Homo sapiens: one gene and its partners. The protein of the gene in region 5 purifies or fractionates together with the protein of the main gene of each other region. This does not show direct contact. Each region holds a gene or a part of one and is shown on either strand. Other genes may lie near its edges. The genes, in order: PMPCB, RSPRY1, PDP2, STRN, SPINK2, DMAC2L and MOB4.

Region 1 (3,500 bases), on a different chromosome or scaffold from region 5:
TGGGTGAGGGTACAGCTGATCTTATTTTTTTTCTAAATATGACAAATAGTAAATTATGGATGATGGTTTTTCTTAATATGTAGCAATAAAATAGAGATTATTTGGTGGGAATAAAATATTTTGTCAGGACAGCAGTTTGTTAGTTACCATGTTTGTAGACTGTTTTGACTCTCTTAAAAGTTATTACACAAAACATTTCCCAGTGGAAGAATTAACAACAAAATTTAGCAGTTTTAGAGCTAATTGGTAAACTCATTATTTTTGTTTAGAGAGATAGTCTCGCTCTGTCACCTAGGCTGGAGTGCAGTGGTGTGATCTCGGCTCGCTGCAACCTCTGCCTCCTGGGTTCAAGTGATTCTCCTGCCTCAGCCTCCTGAGTAGCTGGGATTATAGGCTCCTGCCACCATAGCTGGCTAGTTTTTATATTTTTAGTAGAGATGGGTTCTACCATGTTGGCCAGGCTGGACTTAAACTCCTGACCTCAAGTGACCCACCTGCCTCGGCCTCCCAAAGTGCTGGGATTATAGGCGTGAGCCACTGTGCACGGCCATTAGTGAAATTTTTAACCTTTAAGGTCCTTCTGTAGTTGTAGTTACTACTTTGCAATTTTGGATTCCTAATAGACTTTCATTAATAATGTTTAAATGGCACTTAACACAAGTACTTTTGTGTATATATTATCCATTTGATGTGCATAGGTGTTTCCACCTTGCAGTTGTGGAAATTGAAGCTCAGACTCTGACTTGCCCAGGATTGCATAGCTATCAGGTGGCTTACTGTGGACTCAAGTGCGTGTCTTCTTACCAGATTCATTTGCTTTGTCAAAACAATAAAATAAGAAACCTATCACTTGTAAATAACTAAAATACTTAATATGATACCCTAACTTTTGCATTAAAACAAAAATGACAGCAACGATGGAGGGTATGTTGGTTTGAATAACAAAACCAATAGAGACAGTTTTTGTCCCAGGACTAATTAGGGACCAAGAACATATGGCTAGGCCAAGGTTCTTTAAAGAGTTGTTCATTCCAGCCTAGTTCCTTCCTTTATTTACACAGAACAACAGGGAAGGCAAAAAGGAGAAACAGAAAAAGGAAGGATGAAATTAAACGACTTTTTTCCCCCTTTTCTCCTGGCATCTAGCTGGGAACGACAGAGCTTCTGCTAGTGGGAGTGGAAAAACAGGGGCTTTCCCTGAGGAATGCAAAATGGAAGTGCTCTCTGAAGCAGCTCCAACTTTGGGGATTTACTTGGGGTTTTTCACCCTTCACCCTGGGTGTGAAGCCTGGTATATGAAGTAATAATTAGATGTTTAGACTAATGGTCTCCAGGTTTTTATGATCACTTATTCTTTTTTTTTAATTTTTATTTTTTATTATTATACTTTAAGTTCTAGGGTACATGTGTACAACGTGCAGGTTTGTTACATATGTATTCATGTGCCGTGTTGGTGTGCTGCACCCGTTAACTCGTCATTTACATTAGGTATATCTCCTAACGCTATCCCTCCCTGCTCCCACCACCCCACGACAGGCTCCGGTGTGTGATGTTCCCACCTCGTGTCCAAGTGTTCTCATTGTTCAATTCCCACCTATAAGTGAGAACATGCGGTGTTTGGTTTTTTGTCCTTGTGATAGTTTGCTCAGAATGATGGTTTCCAGCTTCATCCATGTCCCTACAAAGGACATGAACTCATCCTTTTTTATGGATGCATAGTATTCCATGGTGTATATGTGCCACATTTTCTTAATCCAGTCTATCATTGATGGACATTTGGGTTGGTTCCAAGTCTTTGCTATTGTGAATAGTGCTGCAGTAAACATACGTGTGCATGATGATCACTTACTCTTATTGGTAAGAAAGTTGATCATATATCCTTAATGTATGTATACTTGTAAGTTAAATACATGTGCTACTATACTAACATATATTAAATACACATTTAAAAAAAAGATTCAGATTAAAACAGACTGGGAAATAGGAGCCCCCCTCCCTGCCTTTGGAAACTACCAGGGTAGACCACCAATCCCACATAAAGGAGGATTTTCACACAGGAATTCTTGTCCTTCCATTTGTCTATGGGCTCTTTCTCACCCATTTTACTGGACTCTGTTCTCTTATCTGGACAGATGGGTTTTATTTGGTTTTACAGATAATTTTTTCCTTTTGGTCATGATCTCAGCCACAGCTTACTATAATAGTTTGTTCTGTCATGTTCTTAGTATTTGAACATAATCAGTTCTGAGACAGTGCCCCTTAAAGTGAACTTAATTAAAACAAGCAACAACAGTTTGTAGTAGAGTAAAAAATGAAACCTAAACCAGACACGGTAGTACATGCCTTTAGTCTTGGCTACTTGGAGGAAGCTGAGGCAGGAGGATTGTTTGAGCCCAGGAATTTTGAGTCCAGTCTGGGCAGCATAATGAGACCTTGTCTCTTAGGGGAAAAAAAAGAAACTTAAGATTGTAAGTTTATTTTATAACATTAATCGTATTAATGAAATTTAGATTTATGATTGCAACTATGTACTAATTCTTCAAGAATGAAGCACAGTTTTTTTTTTGGAGAGGTATGCGCTTTTTCTGATAAAATTGCTTAATGGCCTAATATAACATGTTCCACTTCACTTTTGGCTTTTTGCAAATTAGGGTTTGAGAACACACAATTCTGTGATTCATTTGGGGCATATTTTAGATTGTAAGGATTCTTTTCTCTGTTGCCCAGGCGAGAGTGCAGTGGTGCAATCGCAGCTCACTGCAATCTTTGCCTCCCGAGCTCCACCCATCCTCCCATCTCAGCCTCCCGAGTAGCAGGGACTACGGGCACATGCCACCACACGAAGCTAATTTTTGTATTTTTTGTAGAGACAGGATTTTGGCATGTTCCCCAGGTTGGTCTGGAACTCCTGGGCTGAAGCCCATATTAGCCTCCCAAAGTGCTGGGATTATATAGGTGTGAGCCACGGTGCCTGACCAGTTCTTTGCTTCTTAACATAGCACTGTCATTGCTGTGGGAACTTGCATAGTAAATACTTGGGTGATACAAACCCTCTGTACATTGCTAGCTAGGTATTTTCAGACTAATATATATAACTTTGTAATTTTCATATAGAACAATCTATATTAATATGCAAATTTCCATAGCATTTTTTAAGTAGGTAGAGTCATTACAAGGTGATGGCAAATTTATACTTTTTCCCCAAGGAAAAAATCTTTTGTACTATAGGGGTTTATATGTTAAATTTTAATTTTGTCCTGTTAAGTATATCTGATGTTTTTCTCCTAGGCTAATCATTTAGTATTGAGTGATGGGTCAGTGTCATGATTTCTGATTTTGGTTTAATAGATTTTAATAGTGAAAGTTAAGATTGCTGGCACGTTTTCTTATATTTTATTTTCAATTAGCTGTAGAAATTCTTGCTGATATAATACAAAACAGCACATTGGGAGAAGCAGAGATTGAACGTGAGCGTGGAGTAATCCTTAGAGAGATGCAGG
Region 2 (3,500 bases), on a different chromosome or scaffold from region 5:
CTTGGCTTCTCAAAGTGTTGGGATTATACGTGTAAGCCACTGTGCCCAGCCTAGGTTAAAATTTTTTAAATGTTAAAAATAGAAGCATTTAAGGCTGGGCGCGGTGGTTCACGCCTGTAATCCTAGCACTTTGGGAGGCTGAGGTGGGTGGATCACCTGAGGTCAGGAGTTCGAGACCAGCCTGAACAGCATGGTGAAACCCCGTCTCTACTAAAATACCCCGTCTCTACTAAAAATCAGCCGGGAGTGGTGGCAGGCACCTGTAATCCCAGTACTCAGGAGGCTGAGGCACGAGAATTGTTTGAACCTGGGAGGCAATGGTTGCAGTGAGCTGAGATTGTGCTACTGCACTCCAGCCTGGGCGACAAAGCGAAACTCTGTCTCAAAAAAAAAAAAAGAAGCATTTAGGTTGGGCGCAGTGGCTCACACTTGTAATCTCAACACTTTGGGAGGCCAAAGCAGGCAGATTGTTTGAGTCCAGGAGTTCAAGACCAGCCTGGCAACATGGTGAAACCCTGTTTCTACAAAAAAATCCAAAAGTTAACAGGGTAACGTGGTGCATGCCTATAGTCCCAGCTGCTCAGGAGGCTGAGGTGGGAGGATCACTTGCAATCTGGAGGTCGAGATTGCAGTGAGACAAGATGGCGTTATTGCACTCCAGCCTGGTTAAAAAAAGAAGTATTTGTATCTCAGGTGGCGATCTTTATTCAGAAGCTAGAAGAGAATGTTGAGTTGCTTCGCTGATTTTCTTATCTTTCTCTAAGCAATTTCCTCATAACAAAAGTTTTAAGAATGTTTTTTATTAAGAGGAAAAACTGGGCTGAATGTACTGGCTCATGCCTGTGATCCCTGCACTTTGGGAGACCAAGGCAGGAGGATCAGTTAAGCTCAGGAGTTTGATACCAGCCTGAACAACATAGTGAGACCTTGTCTCTGTTAAAAAAAAAAAAAAAAAAGAAAGCCAGGCACGGTGGCTCATGCCTGTAATCCCAACACTTTGGGAGGCCAAGGCAGACAGATCACTTGAGGTCAGGAGTTCAAGACCAGCCTGGCCAACATGGTGAAACCTCATCTCTACTAAAAATACAAAAATTAGCCAGCACGATGGCGTGCACCTGTAATCCCAGCTACTTAGGAGGCTGAGGCAGGAGAATCACTTGAACTCGGAAGGTGGAGGCTGCAGTGAGCTGAGATTGCACCACTGCACTTCAGCCTGGGCGACAGAGTGAGACTCCATCTCAACAACAACAACAAAAAAAAGTTAAAACTGAAAGCACTTTTGAATCTTACTCAAATGTATTAATGATTAGTGTAACATTGGTTATCCTTTACATAGAACAAAAGCATCGAACTTTCATTGCTTTCCCATGTGTTTTACAGAGTCCTTTTTTTTTTTCTTTTTTTCTTCTTTTGGATTCTGGCATCTTTCATTTTTAAGATGGAGTCTTGCTATGTTGCCCAGACTGGTCTCAAACTCCTGGGCTCAAGCATCCTCCCACCTTGGCCTCCCAAAGTGCTGGGATTACAGGCATGAGCCACTGTGCCCAGCCTCAATTCTGGCATTTTCATTCATCTGTTTAAGCCCAGTGCAGAAAAACATTGTGGACGGAAGGGGAAAGTCTTTAGCGTAGTCACCAATGAATTGACCTTTGCCTAGGCTTATAAGAGCTGCCTGTTTCAATTTGCCTTCAACTCTGTTGGGGCAGGGTGCAGTGGTTCATGCCTATAATCCCAAAACTTTTGGGGGCTGAAGCAGGAGGATCACTTAAGGCCAGGAGTTCAAGACCAGCCTGGGCAACATAATGAGATTCCCATCTCTACAGAAAATTAAAATTATCTGGGCACTGTGACATGTGCCGGTAGTCCCAGCTACGAGGGAGGCTGAAGTGGGAGGATCACTTGAGCCCAGGAGGTAAAGGCTACAGTGAGCCATGATCACTTCACTGCACAGCAGCCTGGGAAACAGAGCAAGAGCAAAAAGAAAAGAAGAAAACTCTGCTGGGATTTGTTTTTGCTTAGTAAAACTTTTTTTAAAGTAACTTTTTACTTCAACATCACCAGCCTTTAATGTTTTCATAATGGCATCTGAGTGGGTTTAATCTGTTTAGTGATTCAAGAATATGTAGCATATATTTGATACAACTTAAGCATTCTGAATGAAGTGGAATCTAGTAAGTCATGTAAGGAGACTTTCAGGTTGATCAGATATTTCCCATCAATGATATCATTAGGGTACATTGCATAATTTTTATATGGTCATTCTGAGTTTATTTAACACCTGGTTATAGCTCCCCCCACCCCCCTGAGACGGAGCCTTGCTCTGTCGTCCAGGCTGGAGTGCAGTGGCACGATCTCGGCTCACTGCAACCTCTACCTCCCAGGTTCAAGTGATTCTCCTGCCTAAGCCTCCTGAGTAGCTGGGATTACAGGCGCGCACCACCACACCTGGCTAATTTTTGTATTCTTAGTAGAGATGGGGTTTCACCATGTTGGCCAGGCTGGTGTCGAACTCTTGACCTTGTGGTCCGCCCGCCTCGGCCTCCCAAAGTGCTGGTTATAGCTTTTGTCTCAAAAAAAAAATGAGCCTGGGAAAACAACCTGTGTAGTATATGGGTCAAACCCACTTGTACTTTTTTGTTTTAGGATGCACTCCAGAAATTGACTGAAATTCTCAATTTAAATGGAGAAGTAGCTTGCCAGGACTCAAGCCATCCTGCCAAACACAGGAACACATCTGCAGTCCTAGGCTGCTTGGCCGAGAAACTAGCAGGTAACTTTGGGACACTCCACAGTGGAAGATCTTAAGTTGTTTGACATTAAAGGGAAATTTGTACTGTATGTCTTTGATCAAACTGCTATACCAGAAAGAAATCTCTTAAAAATGATATTGAGAGACATAGACTAACTGGAAGAAAATTACTGAAAGGCTACAGAGGTGAATGCAATTTAATTTAGCTTTGTGGATTTTCAGGGGAAATTTTAAAAGAAAAAAGTTGTGCTTATTTGCTTTAAGAATAAGGAGCGAGGAAAAGAAAAAAGGGAGAAAAGCTAAATTCAGCATAACAAAGATATGTATGTGTGTATACAATATATAATTTGCATATATACACACTTTATAAAGTTTAGCTCGATTATGAAGACATACAAGGTAGAGGGAGAGGAAAAGGAACTTCTGGTTGGAGCAGTTCCTGAGAAGCAGGTATTTAATTTGTTTATGAATGTTACCCATTTTAAGAAAGTTAACAGCAAAGTACAGGGGCATAGCTCAGCTACTTACATCACGTAATGTGGAAGAAACAATGGATTAGAAATCAGAACATGTGGCTACTGGTTTGGACTCTCCCATGTGCTTGCCAAGTGCCCTGGAGTTAGTTGCTTAATTCTGTGGGCTCACTTGCTTAACTGTGAAATGGAGCTAGTACTATTTTCTACCTCAGAGCAGGAGGCTTTAATAAGATAATGTGCATGAAAGAGTTCTACCAAAACAATTTGATTGTTAC
Region 3 (3,500 bases), on a different chromosome or scaffold from region 5:
TGCAGCCTCAACTTACCAGGCTCAGATGATTCTCCTACCTCAGCCTCCCAAGTAGCTGTGACTATAGATACACACCACCATGCCTGGCAATTTTTTTATTTTTTTTATTTTTTTGGAGAGACAGGGTTTCACCATGTTGCCCAGGCTAGTCTCGAACTCCTGGGCTCAAGCTATCCACCCACCTTGGCCTCCCAAAGTGCTAGGATTACAGGCATGAGCCACCAGGCCTGGCCCCCGAAGCAGATATTTAAATGAACACTTATAGTCTGCTGGTGAGAGTGAGTTTAGTGTATTTTAAATAGTTTATTCTAAGTCATTTTTGTTCAGGATATTAGCAAATGTTTTCAGAAGTCAGTATTTTTAAGAAATTAAATTTGTGGCTGGGTGCTTTGGCTCACGCCTGTAATCCCAGCACTTTGGGAGGCCGAGGCAGGTGGATCACAAGGTCAGGAGATCGAGACCATCCTGGCTAACATGGTGAAACCCTGTCTCTACTAAACATACAAAAAATTGGCCAGGTGTGGTGGCGGGCGCCTGTAGTCCCAGCTACTCCAGAGTCTGAGGTAGGAGAATGGCATGAACCTGGGAGGCGGAGCTTGCAGTGAGCAGAGATCACACCACTGCACTCCAGCCTGGGCGGCAGAGCGAGACTACGTCTCAAAAAAAAAAAAAAAAAAAAGAAATTAAATTTGAAACTTCAACTTTTTAATTTTTAGGTTTAAAAATATCCTTTTTTGCTGAAGGAACACATTTGCTGGTATAGTTTCAGAATGTCAAGTACTGTGTCCTACTGGATCTTAAATTCTACAAGGAACAGCATTGCCACATTGCAAGGGGGTAGACGCTTATACTCCAGGTATGTCTCAAATAGGAATAAATTAAAATGGAGGCTCTTTTCCCGGGTGCCACCCACCCTAAACAGTTCCCCATGTGGTGGCTTTACTCTGTGCAAAGCCTACAGACACACATCAACAGAGGAAGATGATTTTCACTTGCAACTCAGCCCTGAGCAGATAAATGAAGTGCTTCGAGCTGGCGAGACAACCCACAAGATTCTTGACCTTGAAAGCAGAGTCCCAAATTCAGTGTTGCGGTTTGAGAGCAACCAGCTGGCTGCCAATTCCCCAGTGGAGGACCGGCGAGGTGTAGCCTCCTGCCTGCAAACCAATGGACTGATGTTTGGCATCTTCGATGGACATGGTGGTCATGCATGTGCCCAAGCAGTGAGCGAGAGGCTCTTCTACTATGTGGCAGTGTCCCTGATGTCCCACCAGACCCTGGAGCACATGGAGGGAGCTATGGAAAGCATGAAACCCTTGCTGCCCATCCTGCATTGGCTCAAGCACCCAGGGGACAGTATCTACAAGGATGTCACATCTGTGCATCTTGACCACCTCCGTGTCTATTGGCAGGAACTGCTTGATTTGCACATGGAAATGGGACTAAGCATTGAAGAAGCATTAATGTACTCCTTCCAGAGACTGGATTCTGACATCTCGCTGGAAATCCAGGCCCCCCTGGAAGATGAGGTGACAAGGAACCTGTCACTCCAGGTTGCTTTCTCTGGGGCAACAGCTTGCATGGCCCATGTTGATGGAATTCACTTGCACGTGGCAAATGCTGGTGACTGCCGAGCCATCCTTGGTGTCCAAGAGGACAATGGCATGTGGTCTTGTCTGCCCCTTACACGTGACCACAATGCCTGGAACCAGGCCGAGCTGTCCCGGCTAAAGAGGGAGCACCCTGAGTCAGAGGACAGGACGATCATCATGGAGGACAGGCTACTGGGCGTCCTCATCCCCTGCAGGGCCTTTGGGGATGTTCAGCTGAAGTGGAGTAAAGAGTTGCAGCGCAGCATTCTGGAGAGGGGCTTCAATACCGAGGCCCTCAACATTTACCAGTTCACACCCCCACACTACTACACTCCACCCTACCTGACTGCTGAGCCTGAGGTCACATACCACAGGCTGAGGCCCCAGGATAAGTTCCTTGTGCTGGCCTCAGATGGCCTGTGGGACATGCTGAGCAATGAGGACGTGGTAAGGCTGGTGGTGGGGCACCTGGCTGAGGCAGATTGGCACAAGACAGACCTGGCCCAGAGACCCGCCAACTTGGGGCTCATGCAGAGCCTGCTGCTGCAGAGGAAAGCCAGCGGGCTCCACGAGGCTGACCAAAATGCAGCCACGCGGCTGATCAGACATGCCATCGGGAACAATGAGTATGGGGAGATGGAGGCAGAGCGGCTGGCGGCGATGCTGACATTGCCAGAGGACTTGGCGAGGATGTACAGGGATGATATCACTGTCACTGTGGTGTATTTTAACTCAGAATCAATCGGTGCATATTACAAGGGGGGTTAAGAATCTCCCATCCTATTGTCAAGGTTAACATAAATGCTCTTCTAAAATGTTTCACTTACTCCTAAACTAGCTATCCAAACCTTACTATTAAAAGCGCAGGCAGATTTAATTTGCTAAATAGACTAACAGGAGGAAAAAAACAAACAGCCTAGCTTTAAAAAACAGTGAAATAGCAGTGATTTCATGTCCCTGTATGTTCTGATTAAGTCTTATATGCAGAGAGGACAGAGCATAAAGTCTATAGAATTGGCTTGGGCTTGTGTAGCCCCAGTCATTTGATAAAGATGTTGTTAAACTGTGTCAGCCTGAGCCTTCAAAGGGTAAATTTAATCATGATTCTGAGAATAAAGAACTTCAGGAGCTTCTTAGGTCTTGCCACAAAAATCTGCAAATTTGATAATTCTCCTGAATTCACAATCATGGACTTGTAGACTATGAAGAGATATTTTATTTGTTTGTCTTTTATTTAAATTACTAAGGTCTAGGTTTACAAAGCATACTACAGGACCCTTTTCTATGCAATATCCTAACTTTTTTTTTTGTGATTATGCTTGTGAGAAATTTTGTAATACTACATTCTAGTTCTGTTTTCGTTTATTTTAAAACTGAATCCTTAAACTTGCAAACACGCCTACTGTAAGCATGCTTGGAATGACTTGTTTTGGTTTTCAGCTGATAGGATCTATGCCTCTGGACCAGCTGAACTTACTGGTGCAGCTTTTTGTGCCCTCTACTGAGTCCCATTCCAGAAACTTTGAGCCATGCTAGGAGGTAACTAGTCTATGCCTTAACTCCTGACCTTTCCTGCATTAGTAAAATTTCCTCCTGGGCTGAGCCTTTGGGGGTTGATTCACAGCATTTAAGCTTTCTGATTATACCTCTCAAACATTCTTCTGTCAATTCCACACAATCCTTCTACCTCTGCTATGCTGAACCCCTCATTCACCCTGCACCTGCCAACTGCAAAATATTGTCTGAAAGAATCTTTCACATGTTCCTGCTTCCTATGGCTGCAGGAAAGGAGAAAATGTGATTGCATGTGGTAGTTGTGGTGATAGACGTTTAGACAGGACAGGTTAATTTAGCGGATTGTGGACTTAAGATTCAACCTCTATCTGGAGAGGTGAAAACACAAAGGCT
Region 4 (3,500 bases), on a different chromosome or scaffold from region 5:
CATGTGGTCCTGGTTAAATTAAATCTAAAGCTTGGATTAGCAAAGATCCAGAAAATTCTGACCCCCTAAGCACCACTTTAGGAATACCGCCAGAATCAATGAGTGGGATCTAGGGATCTGTTTGGCCTAACATTTGTTTTTTTTAGAATTAAAAAAACAAAACAAAAACTGAAAGGATCTGTTAAATACTTTGTCAACCTGGCATCCCTGACACTGACATGAAGATCCAGTTGGATGATGGATATTGCCAATTAAAAAGTTTGTAGTGGCAAAAGTAAAAATGATTCAAATTGACGAATGACCTGTCCTTTGTTTTTAAACACAGATACGTTTTTCTGGGCCTTTCTCTAAAATGAACTTTAGGGCTTGATACATTTCACAAAAATATACATATTTTTCGTCAGCTACTACTTTGTATACAACCTGAATCCCAGTGTCCAACACTTAAAAGTACTGCAATTATATAAATTACTAAACAAGTTAACAGTAATGGAGAGGCAACTTCTGAGTAAATAAAATGAATGATTATGTACTTAATAGCCTTGTAGTCACTTTCAAAGAATAAAGTAATCTAAATAAAATTATACTTAGCACTCTTTTTCATGTAAGTTCAATAATTATTTGGCTATTGGTTGAAAACATCACACAGACAGACACCAACCAAAGATTCATTATCTCCACTCGCTAAAAACATTGATGGTTAATTTTAAGCAATTCTTTCAAAGAAAAACAAAATTAATTCTAAGCCTTTCAGTCTGATTTGTGACATCTTAATACAATATAACTTAAATGACAAAGCCTGAGAAAAGCACCAACATAGATTTTTTTTTAATTGCATCCAACCATCATTTCAGATGTCATAAAGATTTGCTTCAGTTAAAATGGCAGCAATGACAAAGAGGTAGATATGAGAGATGCTTTTTAAATATTTTAAGACTATTCTTAGGTGGAATTTTAACTAGTTCAGGTATTTAACCTAAAAATATTTACTAGTTGAATCTTTACCACATAAGAACTTCATGACATGCTGTTTTGTAAGAGGGAAATATATGAAGTATTAAAAAGTGAGCCTTTAAAAAATTACATTTACTTAGCCAACATTAATGAGATCCCATAATTTTGGTGAACAAATAATTTCTCCTTCTACCTGAACTTTACTATAATTAAAGAATAGCTATTGTTTTCTCTACTGAAATTTCTAGGAATTCACATTCAAAATTCTTGGAAAGTATATATGGTGCTCAGAAGAGCACAAAGCGCATGAAATGTCCCCTGAAGTCCTAGAAGTTGAGCAGATACATTAAAAAGACATTGATGGTCACAAATCAGGACCTTCACAGATTGGTAAACACACACACACACACACACACGCATGCATGCACACACACACACACACACACACACACACACACACACTAACTCTCTCTCTCTCTCTGTGCCCCCCCTCCCACCCCCTCCCCAAACTCAATCTTCATCCTCACTGTAAGGCTGCATTTTTTTTTTTAAAGGCACCTCTCATTTTCTAGCTATTGCCTTCTTGATGATATTTGTTTTTGTTAAAAAGTCTGAATGTTCAATGGAAATAGTTCAGTACTGAGAATAAAATATTTTTCAATTCACATTTGAATAGCCAGGTTTTCTTACATTCAGATTTTAATACACTAGAATGACAGTCTTTAAAACAAGCATGCTAGCCTATAATGAATATTGTATATACAGTAATTTAAACACTTAGAACTATATATTATACTGCAAAAGCAAACAGCACAACACTCATCATACTCATCATTATCTGCTGTGTATACTACCTCCAAAAATGAAAATACAAAACAGTAAAATGCACCTATGGTTTATATATATATATATATATATATATATATATATATATATATAGTTTATATATTATATATATTCTTACAATATATATAATATATATTTATAAAATATACATACATTTTAGACATTTTCAAATAAATCTTCATCATTATCTCCAAAAGAAATTTATAGCAAGAATACTGAAGGAATGAAAGTCAGATTAAAAAAAAAATTTCTCACAAAGTTCATCATCAGTGATGCAGCTCAATTTCCCCCGTTTTAGTCATAACTAAAATGATTATAAAAGCGAAATATTTTGCATAACTAAGTATTTGTTTAATGGCAAAAGTTGTTAAACTTGTTCAATAGAAAAATACTGAAGGTCATTATATCACTTTTGTTAAATAATCTGTCTATGGTTTGAGTAGCAAATGAGCTCCATATGACAGTTGAGTTTTGAGAAGGGTGCTGCAAGCTCCCAGAGATGTATCCACAGCATATGAAAATAAGGCAGGGATCCAAACCTCCCGCTAATTTTCATACTATTCCAATACATTTCAAACAAAATATTTACAAATGAAGCACTATGAAAGCATTTCAATGGCTGTTTAAACATTGAATTTGTTCATTCTGTGAATTTTCATTGAATGTTCAACAGGCTAGGGGAAAAGTCAGACACATGTATATGCTACTCTGGTTGGAAGACAGCTTTGGCTCATTTCTAGGCTGAGATCATGCAGTGCTGGTAGAGAAGACTCTCTCCGTAGTCTCCAATGCCACAGCACTGGCTTTCTAAGGAACTTTCAACAGTTCCATTTGCGCTACAGTCTATGTATCTCATGGTTATTTTCCACTCACTGACAGAAAAATTTCAACCATGAAGCATAAAATGAACGGGGGAAGAATGTCCTGGTTTTTAGAATTTCAGTGACATTAATAAAGCAGTAACTGAAGATCTTAGAAGGTAATTAATAACTGGTAGAACAATAGCTTTGTGGTCATCCATCATAAATACACCAAGTAATGGCATCTTCCTTCCTTCCTTCCTGGAAGGAATTTTCCAGTATCCTTCTACAAATGTTAGGTTAGAAACATTCTTTCTTCACTGTGAAGAACCAAAAGAAATTTACTGAACACAATATGGAATTCTGTATCTGCATGGAAATATTAAGTATTCACCTGACAGCTCATGTTTAGGTCAATTCATTTAATTACACAAAGCAGTCTCTTGAGCCTGCTTGTTAACCAAAGCACAAAGATGAAATGAAAAGGTAGCTGTATTACTACAGCATATCTGTATGAAAATCAGGCAAATTTAGCACAAGTCTCTAGCTTTAAAGAAAATTTGCCTGTATAATGCAGAATTCTAGAGGCAAACAGGCAGAAATTTTACAGAAATATTTGTCAATCATTAGCCACACCACCACCAGAATACTTTTTCAAGGAGTAGATGTACGTATCATGAGAAGCATCATTGTTATGACGATGGAAAATGTGGGGAATGGAATATGTAGAAATTGTTTTAATTGGTTAAAATATCTATAGATTTAATATTTTTAAAATCTAAGAGCCTATTTATATGTTTTTTGGTGGAAAGTTGGACGTTAATAATTTATTTCCAATTTCTAGATTGGTCTCTGTCATTTGGGACAAAGAGTAAGAGAGACATAAACCACTATAGAAAT
Region 5 (4,087 bases):
TCTCAAACTCTTGAGCTCAAGTGATCCACCAGGCTCAGCCTCCCAAAGTGCTGGGATTAGAGGCGTGAGCCACCACGCCTGGCCTTAATGCACTAACTTGCTCAGCCTCTTTGGCAAAAATTATTTCTCACAGAAGTAATGAGTAGAACAGTAGTTACTAGAGGCTGGGAAGGATAGGGGGATAGGGAGAGGTTGGTTAAAGTATACAAAATTACAGCTAGGTAGAAAGGATAAGTGCTAGTGTTTCATAGCATTGTAGGGTGCCGACAATTAACAATAATATATTATAAAGGTCGAGCACGGTGGCTCAAGCCTGTAATCCCAGCACTTTGGGAGGCCAAGGTGGGCGGATTGCTTGAGCCCAGGAGTTTGAGAGTAGCCTGGGCAACATGGTGAGAACCCCTCTCTACAAAAAATGCAAAAATTAGCTTGGCATGGTGGCATATATCTGTGGTCCCAGCTACTTGGGAGGGAGGCTGAGGTGGGAGGATCACTGGAACCTGGGAGGTGGAGGTTGCAGTGAGCTGAGATCGTGCCACTGCACTCCAGCCTGGGTAAAAGAGCGAGACCCTGTCTGAAATTTAAATAATAATAATAATTTATTATGTATTTTCAAGTAGCTAGATGAGAGGATTTTGAATGTTCTCAACACAAAGTAATGATAAATGTTTGAGGTGATGAATATGCTAATTATCCTATTTTGATCACTACACATTGTATGTATCCAAATATCACTATGTACCCCCATAAATATGTACAATCATTATGTGTCAACTCAAATAGTTAAAAAATATATTAAAAGAGGGAAAGGCAGAACGCTTCCTGAGAGCAAGGACCTCCTTTGTCGAGGTCAGGGCTGTGTCTTCAGCAACGAAACACTATCTGGGACTTAGTACATGCTTAAGAAATAGGTGTTGATTGACAGAGCTCCCAAGAGCTCCACAAGGGTCCCCCTAGGACTGTCACAGGTTCTTGTATGTCGGAGGGAGAGGTCTTCCCCTTCGTCTCCTTGGGGGGAGGGGAAGGTGTTGGGGAACAACTGCCCCTTCCTCTATCTCCCTCGCCCCTCCTTCCCCATGGCCCCCTCCCCCGTCCTTCTACCTTTCTCCTTCCCAGCCCTTTCCGGTTCTCCCCCGACCCTTCACGGCTCCTCTTCCCGCCGCTCCTCTTCCCGCCGCCCCTCTTCCCTCGCCACCTACCGCTGCTTTTCCTCCCATTCTCGCCCCGCCCCTTCCCCCGCCCTCCCCGCGCCCCGTCGCACGAGCGCTCCCTGCGAGTGGCGCAGGTAACAGACCGCAGGGGCAAGACAGCCGGCGCGGGAGGAGGATGGCGCTGTCGGTGCTGCGCTTGGCGCTGCTGCTCCTGGCAGTTACCTTCGCAGGTAGCGCTCGGAGCGGTCCTGGCGAGCGGGGACCTCCGGAGAAAAGCGGGTTTGGGAGTCAGACCGGCGGCGGACCCTGCCCTGCTCCGGGCGGCCTCGGCGACGGTACCCGCGCGCCCGTTACTGGCGGTTCCCCAGAGGACCTGCCAGGTGGAGGAACGCGAACTGGGGGTTGTGGGGGTGGCTTTGTGGAGTCAGCCACCCTCTTTAGTTCTTGCTTGGGCTTCGCTCCCAGCTCTAAGGACACCTGCCATCTAGAGCGCTTTCTCTGTTAAAGTAGATTTTCAGGTGCCCAAGATGAGGAGTTGAGTTTTTATGTATGGTCCCAAGGGAGGAGATGTGCAGGAATGAGGAATTGTGGATGCTTACGAGAAAGGGGCTTTAGTCCAACCACACTGGACACCTCTCTTAAAATGGAGTTAAAATGCTCACATCTTATATTAAATTTTGTATTTGTTACCCCGAGTTGTAAAGGAAAATAACATCATGAACTATTAATTAAGGGTTACTTCCTTGGCCAGGTGTAGTGGCTTGGGCCGGTAGTCCCAGTTACTCCGGAGGTTGAGGCGGGAGGCTCGCTTGAGACCAGGAATTGAAGCTGCAGTGCGCTAGCGCGACTTTTATTCCATAGCTTCAAAGTCCTTTCTCAACCAACCCTAATGGGAACAGAACCAAATGTTATTTCTATGTGCTTTTGGGGAGAGGTGCCATAAAAAACTGAATATCCTTTCTGGGGGAAGTGGGATGGGGACAGTTTAAAGAAGGTAGGCATTAGAGGGGAAAATAGAAGATGTGGCCTGGATAAATCCCAAACTGGATTTTAAAACATCCTTATGAAGCTGGATGTGGTGGCTAATGCCTCAAATTCCAGCACTTTGGGAGGCCTAGGCAGGAAGATCGCTTAAGCCCGGGAGGTCAAGACCAGCCTGGGCAACATAGCAAGACTTCATTTAAAAAAAAAAAAAACTTCATGAACAATACCTTACCTTGATCCTATACTGTAAAATGTCTATGCTTTCTTCTTACAGCCTCTCTGATCCCTCAATTTGGTCTGTTTTCAAAATATAGAACGGTAAGTAGCAAACCACTTCTACTGTTTCTACTAATACAGTGAAGCCCAAAACCGTTTGGGAGGGAGGCTGGCTTTCAGGTCTGACCTGCCACTTTTGAAACCATTGAGGACTGCGTTTAAAACCAGGTTGTCAGGCAGGCCTTTTGATTCAGATAAAAGTGTAAGTTTTAGTTGAAAACAGCTCAGTCTTTGTGTTAATATTTCCTTTAAAGATTCAAAAGGTCCTTAGAAAAAGTTATGCCTTGTACTAGATATTTTATGTACTTTATCAAATTAAATTCTGAGGATGTAAATGGAGACCAACCAAATGAGAACAAGCAAAGGCTATGTTTTTCAGGGCTTGTTATAGCAAGAGAGTCAGCCACTGTCACTTGCATTTGAGTAGGGACTCGAGTCAAAGAGAGGAGTGGGAAAACTATAGTGGAAAAAAGGAATGGCTTCAGGTATGGCCTGATTGGAGGCTGTTGGCACAGGGAAGCTGTAGGTGAGCTAACTAGAAGCACAACATTCTATGGTATGGGTTAGGGGTGTGTATTTGGTTTTCTCTGGTTGTCCTAAGTTGGAATCAAGGACAGAAATTACGGAAGCTGTCAGTTAGTAATCAAATCCTAACCATTTTGCAGCTGGGCGCAGTGACTCACGCCTGTAATCCCAGTGCTTTGGGAGGCCGAGGTGGGCAGATCACGAGGTCAGGAAATCAAGACCATGCTGGCTAACATGGTGAAACCCCGTCTGTACTAAAAATACAAAAAATTAGCCAGGCATCATGGCACGTGCCTGTAATCCCACCTACTGGGAAGGCTGAGGCAGGAGAATCACTTGAACCTGGGAGGCAAAGGTTGCAGTGAGCTGAGTTCATGCCACTGCACTCCAGCCCAGACAACAGAGTGAGACTTCATCTCAAAAAAAAAAAAAAAGAAAGAAAAAAAAGTCCTAGCCATTTTGGGCTGATTGTTAAAGGGGTTATTGTTTTGCTTCCTGGACTGTCACTAGAGATAGCAGTCTGATTTCCTTCAAGTCTGGCTTATAGCCGGCTGGCCTCCTGGCCTGGTTATTCTAAATAATGGTTTGGGTTCCTGGACAGGATGCTGCAGGTTGTGGGTCAGAGTTCTGTTTTATATAAGGACTAGTCATTGTCTGTATATTTGGTCTCTCAATTCTCACAATGATGTTGTAAGATAGACATTATTTGACATATGAGGATATTGACTTCAGCAGGTTAACTTTGAGCATTCAGCTCAGAGTAGGCTTCTTCCAGGAAGCCTTCCCACGCGATTCCCTTCCTCTAGAGATGTAGATATGTATACACACACACTTTCTCTGTGCTTACCTATACTGCATCATCATCACCATCATAATAATAAATACTTAGATACCTACATGCCACACCAGTGTTCTAAATGCTTCATATATAATAACTAATTTCATCTTTCACAGTACTGTGAGGTAGGGATCATTATTTCATTATTATCCCCTTGGCCAAGGTCACATGGAAGTGGTGGAGCTATGCTTCTCATCCAGGCAGTCTGACTCCAGATCCAGTGCTTTTCTCTACCCTGTCACAACATTAGGTTGTAATTGCCTGTTTGCCTACGTCCTCCAGGAAACTGTATGCATGTTGTCAGGTATAATGT
Region 6 (3,500 bases), on a different chromosome or scaffold from region 5:
AACATACGATGTTTGGTTTTCCATTCCTGAGTTACTTCACTTAGAATAATAAACTCCAGGCCAGGTGCAGTGGCTCACGCCTGTAATCCCAGCACTTTGGGAGGCCAAGGCAGGTGGATCACGAGGTCAGGAGATTGAGACCATCTTGGTCAACATGGTGAAACCCCATCTCTACTAAAATACAAAAAATTAGCTGGGCGTGGTGGCATATGCCTGTAATCCCAGCTACTTGGGAGGCTGAGGCAGGGGAATCACTTGAACCTGGGAGGCGGAGGTTGCAGTGAGCTGAGACTGCGCCACTGCACTCCAGCCTGGCGACAGAGCAAGATTCTGTTTCACAAAAAAAAAAAAAAAAAAAAAAAAAAAGAGTAATAAATTCCAATCCTATTCAGGTTGCTGCGAATGCCATTAATTCATTCCCTTTTATGGCTAACTAGTATTCCATCATATATATATACCACAGCTTCTTTATCCACTCATTGATTGATGGGCATTTGGGTTGGTTCCACATTTTTTGCAATTGCAAATTGTGCTGCTATAAACATGCGTGTGCAAGTATCTTTTTTGTATAATGACTTCCTTTCCTCTGGGTAGCTACCCAGTAGTGGAATTGCTCGATCAAATGGTAGTTCTAATTTTAGTTATTTAAGGAATCTCCACACTGTTTTCCATAGTGGTTGTACTAGTTTACATTCCCACCAGCAGTGTAGAAGTGTTCCCTTTACACCATATCCACGCCAACATCTATTTTTTTTTAATTTTTTGATTATGGCCATTCTTGCGGGGAGTAAGGTGGTATCACATTGTGGTTTTGATTTGCATTTTCCTGATGATTAGTGATGTTGAGCATTTTTTCATATATTTCTTGGCCATTCATATATCTTCTTTTGAGAATTGTCTTCATGTCCTTAGCCCACTTTTTGATGGGATTGTTTTTTTCTGCTAATTTGTTTGAGTTCATTGTAGATTCTAGATGTTAGTCTTCTGTCAGATGTATAGATTGTGAAGATTTTCTCCCACTATGTGGGTTGTCTGTTTACTCTGCTGACTGTTCCTTTTGCCACGCAAAAGCTCTTTAGTCCCAACTATTTATCTTTGTTTTTATTGCATTTGCTTTTGGGTTCTTGGTCATGAAACCCTTGCCTAAGCCAATGTCTAGAAGGGTTTTTCTGATGTTATCTTCTAGAATTTTTATAGTTTCAGGTCTTAGATGTAAGTCCCTGATCCATCTTGAGTTGATTTTTGTATAAGGTGAGAGATGAGGATCCAGTTTCATTCTCCTACATGTGGCTTGCCAGTTATCCTAGTACCATGTGTTGAATAGGATGTCCTTTCCCCACTTTATATGTTTGTTTGTTTTGTTGAAGATCAGTTGGCTATAAGTATTTGGGTTTCTTTCTAGGTTCTCTGTTTTGTTCCATTGGTGTATGTGCCTATTTTTATACCAGTACCATGCTGTTTTGGTGACTATGGCCTTATGGTATAGTTTGAAATCAGGTAATGTTGTGCCTCCAGATTTATCTTTTTGCTTAGTCTTGCTTTGGCTATGTGGGCTCTTTTTTGGTTCTATATGAATTTTAGGATTGTTTTTTCTAGTTCTCTGAAGAATGATGGTATTTTTATGGGAATTGTATTGATGGGAAGACTAATATCCAGAATCTGCAATGAACTTGAAGCAATTTGTAGATTGCTTTTGGCAGTATGATCATTTTCACAATGTTGACTCTATCCATCCATGAGCATGGGATGTGTTTCCATTTGTTTATGTCATCTGTTATTTCTTTCAGCAGTGTTTTGTAGTTTTCCTTTTAGAGGTCATTCACCTCCTTGGTTAGGCATATTCCTAAGTTTTTTTTGTGTGTGTGGCTATTATAAAAGGGGTTGAGTTCTTGGTTTGATTCTCAGCTTGGTCACTGTTGGTGTATACTAAAGGTACTAATTATGTCATTAATTTTGTATTCTGAAACTTTGCTGAATTCATTTATTGGTTCTAGGAGCTTTTTGGAGGAGTCTTTAGGGTTTTCTAGGCATACAATCATATCATTAGCAAATAGCAAGTTTGACTTCCTCTTTACCGATTTGGATGCCTTTTATTTCTTTCTCTTGTCTGATTGCTCTAGCTAGAACTTCCAGTACTATGTTGAATAGAAGTGATGAGAGTGGGGCTGGGTGCCGTGGCTTATGCCTGTAATCCCAGCACTTTGGGAGGCCAAGGCGGGTGGATCACCTGAGGTCAGGAGTTCAAGACCAGCCTGGCCAACATGGTGAAACCCCATCTCTACTAAAAATACAAAAAATTAGCCGGACGTGGTGGTGGGCGCCTGTAATCCCAGCTACTTGGAAGGCTGAGGCAGGACAATCGCTTGAACCCAGGAGGCAGAGGTTGCAGTGAGCTGAGGTCATGCCATTGCACTCCAGTCTGGGCAACAAGAGTGAAACACTATCTCCAAAAAAAAAAAAGGGGGGTGGTGGTGGTGAGAGTCGGCATCCTTATCTTGTTCCAATTCTTGGAGGGAATGCTTTAAACTTTCCCCGTTCATATTATGTTGGCTGTGGGTTTGTCATAGATGGCATTTATTACTTTGAGGTATGTCCCTTGTATGCCAATTTTGCGGAGGATTTTAATCACAAAGGGATGCTGGATTTTGTCAAATGCTTTTTCTGCATCTATTGAGATGATCATGTGATTTTTGTTTTTAATTGTGTTTATGTGGCATATAACATTTATTGACTTGTGTATGTTAAGCCATTTGTGCATCCCTGTATGAAACTCAATCATGGTGGATTATCTATGGCAGCAGTAATTTAGTAGTGGTTATTTTCTAATTTGCGTTTAACTGGGTTCTTTTAATTTATTAGAGCTAGATTCACTAACTTCCCACTAGAGGTCTCCTCTTTCCCTATAGAAAGCGTTCCCAAAGGCAACTGTTTGGACTCAAGTAGGAATAATTTGCAAAATCATTAGCAAAGTTGCAGTTGAAATGTAAAAACCTACCAATTTTTGTTACCTCTATTGCCAAATATAAATTTAATTTTTATGTTTAAAACATTTTAAATCTAATATCTTGTGTTTTTAGAGATTACAGCCTAAGTAAATTTGGCCTTTCGTTTAAGCTAAATTATAAGATGGGCCAAAATGAATCAAGCAAAAATATTCAGTTTTCAAAGACCACTCTAATTCACCTGCTTAATAACAGTTTAACTGGTTTTACCTTTCTCCATGGAAACATGTCAACCGTTGAAGACTATTAATAAACAAATATTTATTAAACTTTTGCATTATGCTGAGAAAAATGGAAATGAATAAGATGCCATCCTTGTTCTTTTACTTTGCATACTCTTTTTTCGTTCTAACTGGAATTTTTTTTTTCATATTCTGCTTCTGCTTCTAGACTAACTGAAAACTCTTAATCATTAAGACCCATTTCAAAAGACACCTCTAGTGTGAAGGCCTTCTTCTCACTCCCTTCTCTAGATTCTCATGGTATTTGTTCACACCT
Region 7 (3,500 bases), on a different chromosome or scaffold from region 5:
GGGAAACGGAAATACTATATTAGCGGTTAAGAGATACAATTAAGGAAAATCATGAAATAAGAATAAAACCCAGGCTGGCATGGTGGTAATCCCAGCACTGTGGGAGGCCAAGGTGGGTGGATTGCTTAAGCCCCGGAGTTTGAGACCAGCCTAGGCAACATGGTGAAACCTTGTCTCTACAAAAAATACAAAAAACTAGCCAGGCTTAGAGGCATGCACTAGTAGTCCCAGCTACTCAGGAGGCTGAGGTGGGAGGATTGCTTCAGCATGGGAGACAGAGGCTGCAATGCGCCAAGATTGCACCACTGCATTCCAGCCTAGGCAACAGATCAAGACCCTGTTTCAAAAAAAAGGCGGGGATAATAAGGCCCAAATGAATAAATGTAGAAAGGGTGGCTCAATACTTTGGGAGGACAAGGTAGGAAAATTGCTTGAATCCAGGAGTTTGAGACTAGCCTGGGCAACACAATCAGATCCTGTCTCTACAAAAAATTAAAAAATTAGTGAGGCATGCTGGCACACACCTGTAGTCCCAGCTACTCTGGAAGCTGAAGTGGGAGGATCACTTGAGCCTAAGAGGTAGAGGCACAGTAAGCAGTGATTACACCACTGCACTCCAACGTGGGCAAGAGAGTGAGACCCCATCTCAAAAAAAAAAAAAAAAAAGAAAAGAAAAGAAGAGAGGTGCAGAGGCAGGTCCAAATTATCAACTCTGAAATAAACCACCTTTCAAAATGAGTGACTCTGCAGCATAATTTGACCTGGAAACAACCAGTGAAGAAAGCTGAGAACCTTGTGACACTGAAAATGCCAAAGCTTTAAAATTTGGCTTCTTAGTCTGCAGTTACATAGTAAATTTTACAATTCATAATTATCATTAATATGAAAGCTAGTTTTGTGAGAGGTACTATTAGTATTTTGATGTAAGGTCCTACCTTAAATGTTCATACTTCCACACACCTTCATCTTGGCCTTCAGGTGGTTCAAGAATTTTGTCAATATTGGAGCAATCTGCTCTTATGTTCTGTTGAATATACTAAAAACAAAGAAGTTCTTATGGTTAATTAAATTATATCACCTGGTAAATCTTATGTTAAGTACATATAATTTGTTAATACATAACTGCTCTTGTGGTTCAACTTGGGTTATACACTAAATAGGAAACCAAGTATAGAATCATAATCAGTAACTAAGAAAAAAAGTAGGTTACCCTTACTTATTTATCCTTCAATTCAACTTCATTTGGATAGAATCTACTACATAAATGCAGATATTGTATTTGTCAGGACTGGAACTTGGATCAAAATTGCAAACCATAATTTCTTTTTTTTTTTTTTTTTTTTGAAACAGGGTCTCACTGCATCACCCAGGCTGGAGTACAGTGGCACAATCTCAGATCACTGCAATATCCACCTCCTGGGCTCAAGCAATCCTCCCACCTCAGCCTCCTGAGGAGCTGGGACTACAGGCACACGCCATCACGCCGGGCTAACTTTTCCATATTTTGTAGATACAGGATTTCACCATAGGCAATGTAAATATAACTATGGTACATATTGTGATTTGGTTTATATGAAGTGTCTAGAGTAAGAAAATCTATTGAGACAGGAAATAGATTTGTACTGGTGTAGGGCTTGAGGGCAGAGAGGAAGGCAGAAGAGACTGAAGATGGCTGCTAATGAGGGTGAGGTTTCCTTTCAGGAAGGATAAATATGTTCTAAAAGGCCGGGCGTCGGGGCTCATGCCTGTAATCCCAGCACTTTGGGAGGCCGAGGTGGGCAGATCACAAGGTCAGAAAATCGAGACCATCCTGGCTAATATAGTGAAACCCAATCTCTACTAAAAATACAAAAAAATTAGCCAGGCGTGGTGGCACACACCTGTAGTCCCAGCTACTCTGGAGGCTGAGGCAAGAGAATCGCTTGGACCCGGGAGGCGGAGGTTGCAGTGAACCAAGATCGTGCCACTGCACTCCAGCCTGGGCAACACAGTGAGACTCCATCTCAAAAACAAAACAACAACAAAAAAGCTTTAAAATTAGACTGTAGTGATGGCTGTGCAACCCTGTGAATATAATCACTCTAACTGTATAGGGATTTGTATGGTATGTTCATTAGATCCAATAAAAGTTGTTTTAAATGACTAACAGAAAAAACTAAGTTTAAAAAAAAAGGCAAGGGAGGGTCACTTTCAATTTTTAAAATGTAATAACATAAAAATTTAAATTTCAGATCTCTGTAATGCTTTATGCAATCTTTTTGATATTCTGAAGTCTAAATACGTTAGAACAGATTAAAAGGGTGGTTACAAAAACTTACTAACTATAAGGCCTTCTTGAGCCAATCAATTTTGCCTACTTCAGACAATCTTTCTTGAATATCACTTGCTTACTCAAAAACTTTTTTTTCCAAACAAAAGGTCTCACATATTTAGTACTGAACCAGCCTACTGCAGAGCATAGAAACCAAAAGAAAAACCATTGTTCCAATACAGCATGTACAACTGTCCAGATGATGGTGACATTTTCAGCTTGATATGGTGACATGATAGTGACCTTGATGCAATATTAAGTATGTGTGCCATCTCATGTAAAATTCCTTCTAGACCCAGCTTGGTTCTTTTCCAATGTCTCCTCTTAGAGTTGTACCTGATTTTATTACTCAGTTTTCATCTGAATCCACTGGGGAATGGGACGATTTTGCTTTTGTTTCTTGGCCAGGAATCACTTGATTCTAAAAGTCTTAAAGTCTTGTGGGAAGGCATGGCAAAGAACTGAGTCACACGCACACACCATGATGACAGGGAAAGGGATCAAATACTTTTTTTTTTTTTTTTTTTTTTTTGAGGAGTTTTGCTCCTGTCGCCCAGGCTGGAGTGCAATGGCTCAGTCTTGGCTCACTGCAACCTCCGCCTGCCGGGTTCAAGCGATTCTCCTGCCTCAGCCTCCCGAGTAGCTGGGAATACAAGCACCTGCCATCACGCCCGGCTAATTTTTGTATTTTTTGTAGAGACAGGGTTTCGCCATGTTAGTAAGGCTGGTCTCAAACTCCTGACCTCAGCTGATCCACCCGCCTCGGCCTCCCGAAGTGCTGGGATTACAGGCATGAGCCACCGTACCCAGCCTCAAACACTTTTTAATGACTCTTTAATTACTATTGAAACCACTCTCCCTGATTTTTTTTATCTCATCCTAATGTTTCAAAGTTTTGATTCTCTCTCTCCTTGAGGAGATACAGCTAAATTGTATACCTTCTCCAAAGGCCACCTCAAATTCCACATCACAATTCTGTCCAAATCTCTCGTTCCCCCAACACACTCAAGCACTCCCTGATTATTCGAATCCTCACAGAACTCCATCCAATTTCCTGCCACATTTGTAATTTGTATATATTAGCAATCTGTCTATTCATTTTTGTCTTTCCTGTTCCCACTACACCTTCTATGGATAGAAATTTTTTTTTGTTTTTGAGATAGAGTCTCACTCTGTCGCCCAGGCTGGA

What was found.
Region 1: the proteins of SPINK2 (region 5) and PMPCB purify together in Homo sapiens (affinity purification with mass spectrometry; 2 studies listed by BioGRID and IntAct, with this or other methods). This does not show direct contact.
Region 2: the proteins of SPINK2 (region 5) and RSPRY1 purify together in Homo sapiens (affinity purification with mass spectrometry; 2 studies listed by BioGRID and IntAct, with this or other methods). This does not show direct contact.
Region 3: the proteins of SPINK2 (region 5) and PDP2 purify together in Homo sapiens (affinity purification with mass spectrometry; 2 studies listed by BioGRID and IntAct, with this or other methods). This does not show direct contact.
Region 4: the proteins of SPINK2 (region 5) and STRN purify together in Homo sapiens (affinity purification with mass spectrometry; 2 studies listed by BioGRID and IntAct, with this or other methods). This does not show direct contact.
Region 6: the proteins of SPINK2 (region 5) and DMAC2L purify together in Homo sapiens (affinity purification with mass spectrometry; 2 studies listed by BioGRID and IntAct, with this or other methods). This does not show direct contact.
Region 7: the proteins of SPINK2 (region 5) and MOB4 purify together in Homo sapiens (affinity purification with mass spectrometry; 2 studies listed by BioGRID and IntAct, with this or other methods). This does not show direct contact.

What each region holds. Positions count from the first base shown.
Region 1 is NC_000007.14:103,300,435-103,303,934, forward strand, and holds part of PMPCB (mitochondrial-processing peptidase subunit beta isoform 1 precursor), read left to right. Parts: intron 1-3,407; coding exon 3,408-3,500. UniProt on the Homo sapiens protein: Catalytic subunit of the essential mitochondrial processing protease (MPP), which cleaves the mitochondrial sequence off newly imported precursors proteins. Preferentially, cleaves after an arginine at position P2.
Region 2 is NC_000016.10:57,210,329-57,213,828, forward strand, and holds part of RSPRY1 (RING finger and SPRY domain-containing protein 1 isoform 1 precursor), read left to right. Parts: intron 1-2,643; coding exon 2,644-2,770; intron 2,771-3,500.
Region 3 is NC_000016.10:66,883,515-66,887,014, forward strand, and holds part of PDP2 ([Pyruvate dehydrogenase [acetyl-transferring]]-phosphatase 2, mitochondrial precursor), read left to right. Parts: intron 1-716; 5' UTR 717-770; coding exon 771-2,360; 3' UTR 2,361-3,500. UniProt on the Homo sapiens protein: Mitochondrial enzyme that catalyzes the dephosphorylation and concomitant reactivation of the alpha subunit of the E1 component of the pyruvate dehydrogenase complex (PDC), thereby stimulating the conversion of pyruvate into acetyl-CoA.
Region 4 is NC_000002.12:36,844,537-36,848,036, forward strand, and holds part of STRN (striatin), read right to left. Parts: 3' UTR 1-3,500. UniProt on the Homo sapiens protein: Calmodulin-binding scaffolding protein which is the center of the striatin-interacting phosphatase and kinase (STRIPAK) complexes.
Region 5 is NC_000004.12:56,818,902-56,822,988, reverse strand, and holds the start of SPINK2 (serine protease inhibitor Kazal-type 2 isoform 1 precursor), read left to right. Parts: upstream 1-1,287; 5' UTR 1,288-1,326; coding exon 1,327-1,531; exon of another isoform or gene 1,532-1,669; intron 1,670-2,409; coding exon 2,410-2,453; intron 2,454-4,087. UniProt on the Homo sapiens protein: As a strong inhibitor of acrosin, it is required for normal spermiogenesis. It probably hinders premature activation of proacrosin and other proteases, thus preventing the cascade of events leading to spermiogenesis defects.
Region 6 is NC_000014.9:50,315,324-50,318,823, forward strand, and holds part of DMAC2L (ATP synthase subunit s, mitochondrial isoform a precursor), read left to right. Parts: intron 1-3,500. UniProt on the Homo sapiens protein: Involved in regulation of mitochondrial membrane ATP synthase. Necessary for H(+) conduction of ATP synthase. Facilitates energy-driven catalysis of ATP synthesis by blocking a proton leak through an alternative proton exit pathway.
Region 7 is NC_000002.12:197,533,066-197,536,565, reverse strand, and holds part of MOB4 (MOB-like protein phocein), read right to left. Parts: intron 1,037-3,500; coding exon 936-1,036; intron 1-935. Other genes in the region: HSPE1-MOB4 protein, read right to left, coding at 936-1,036.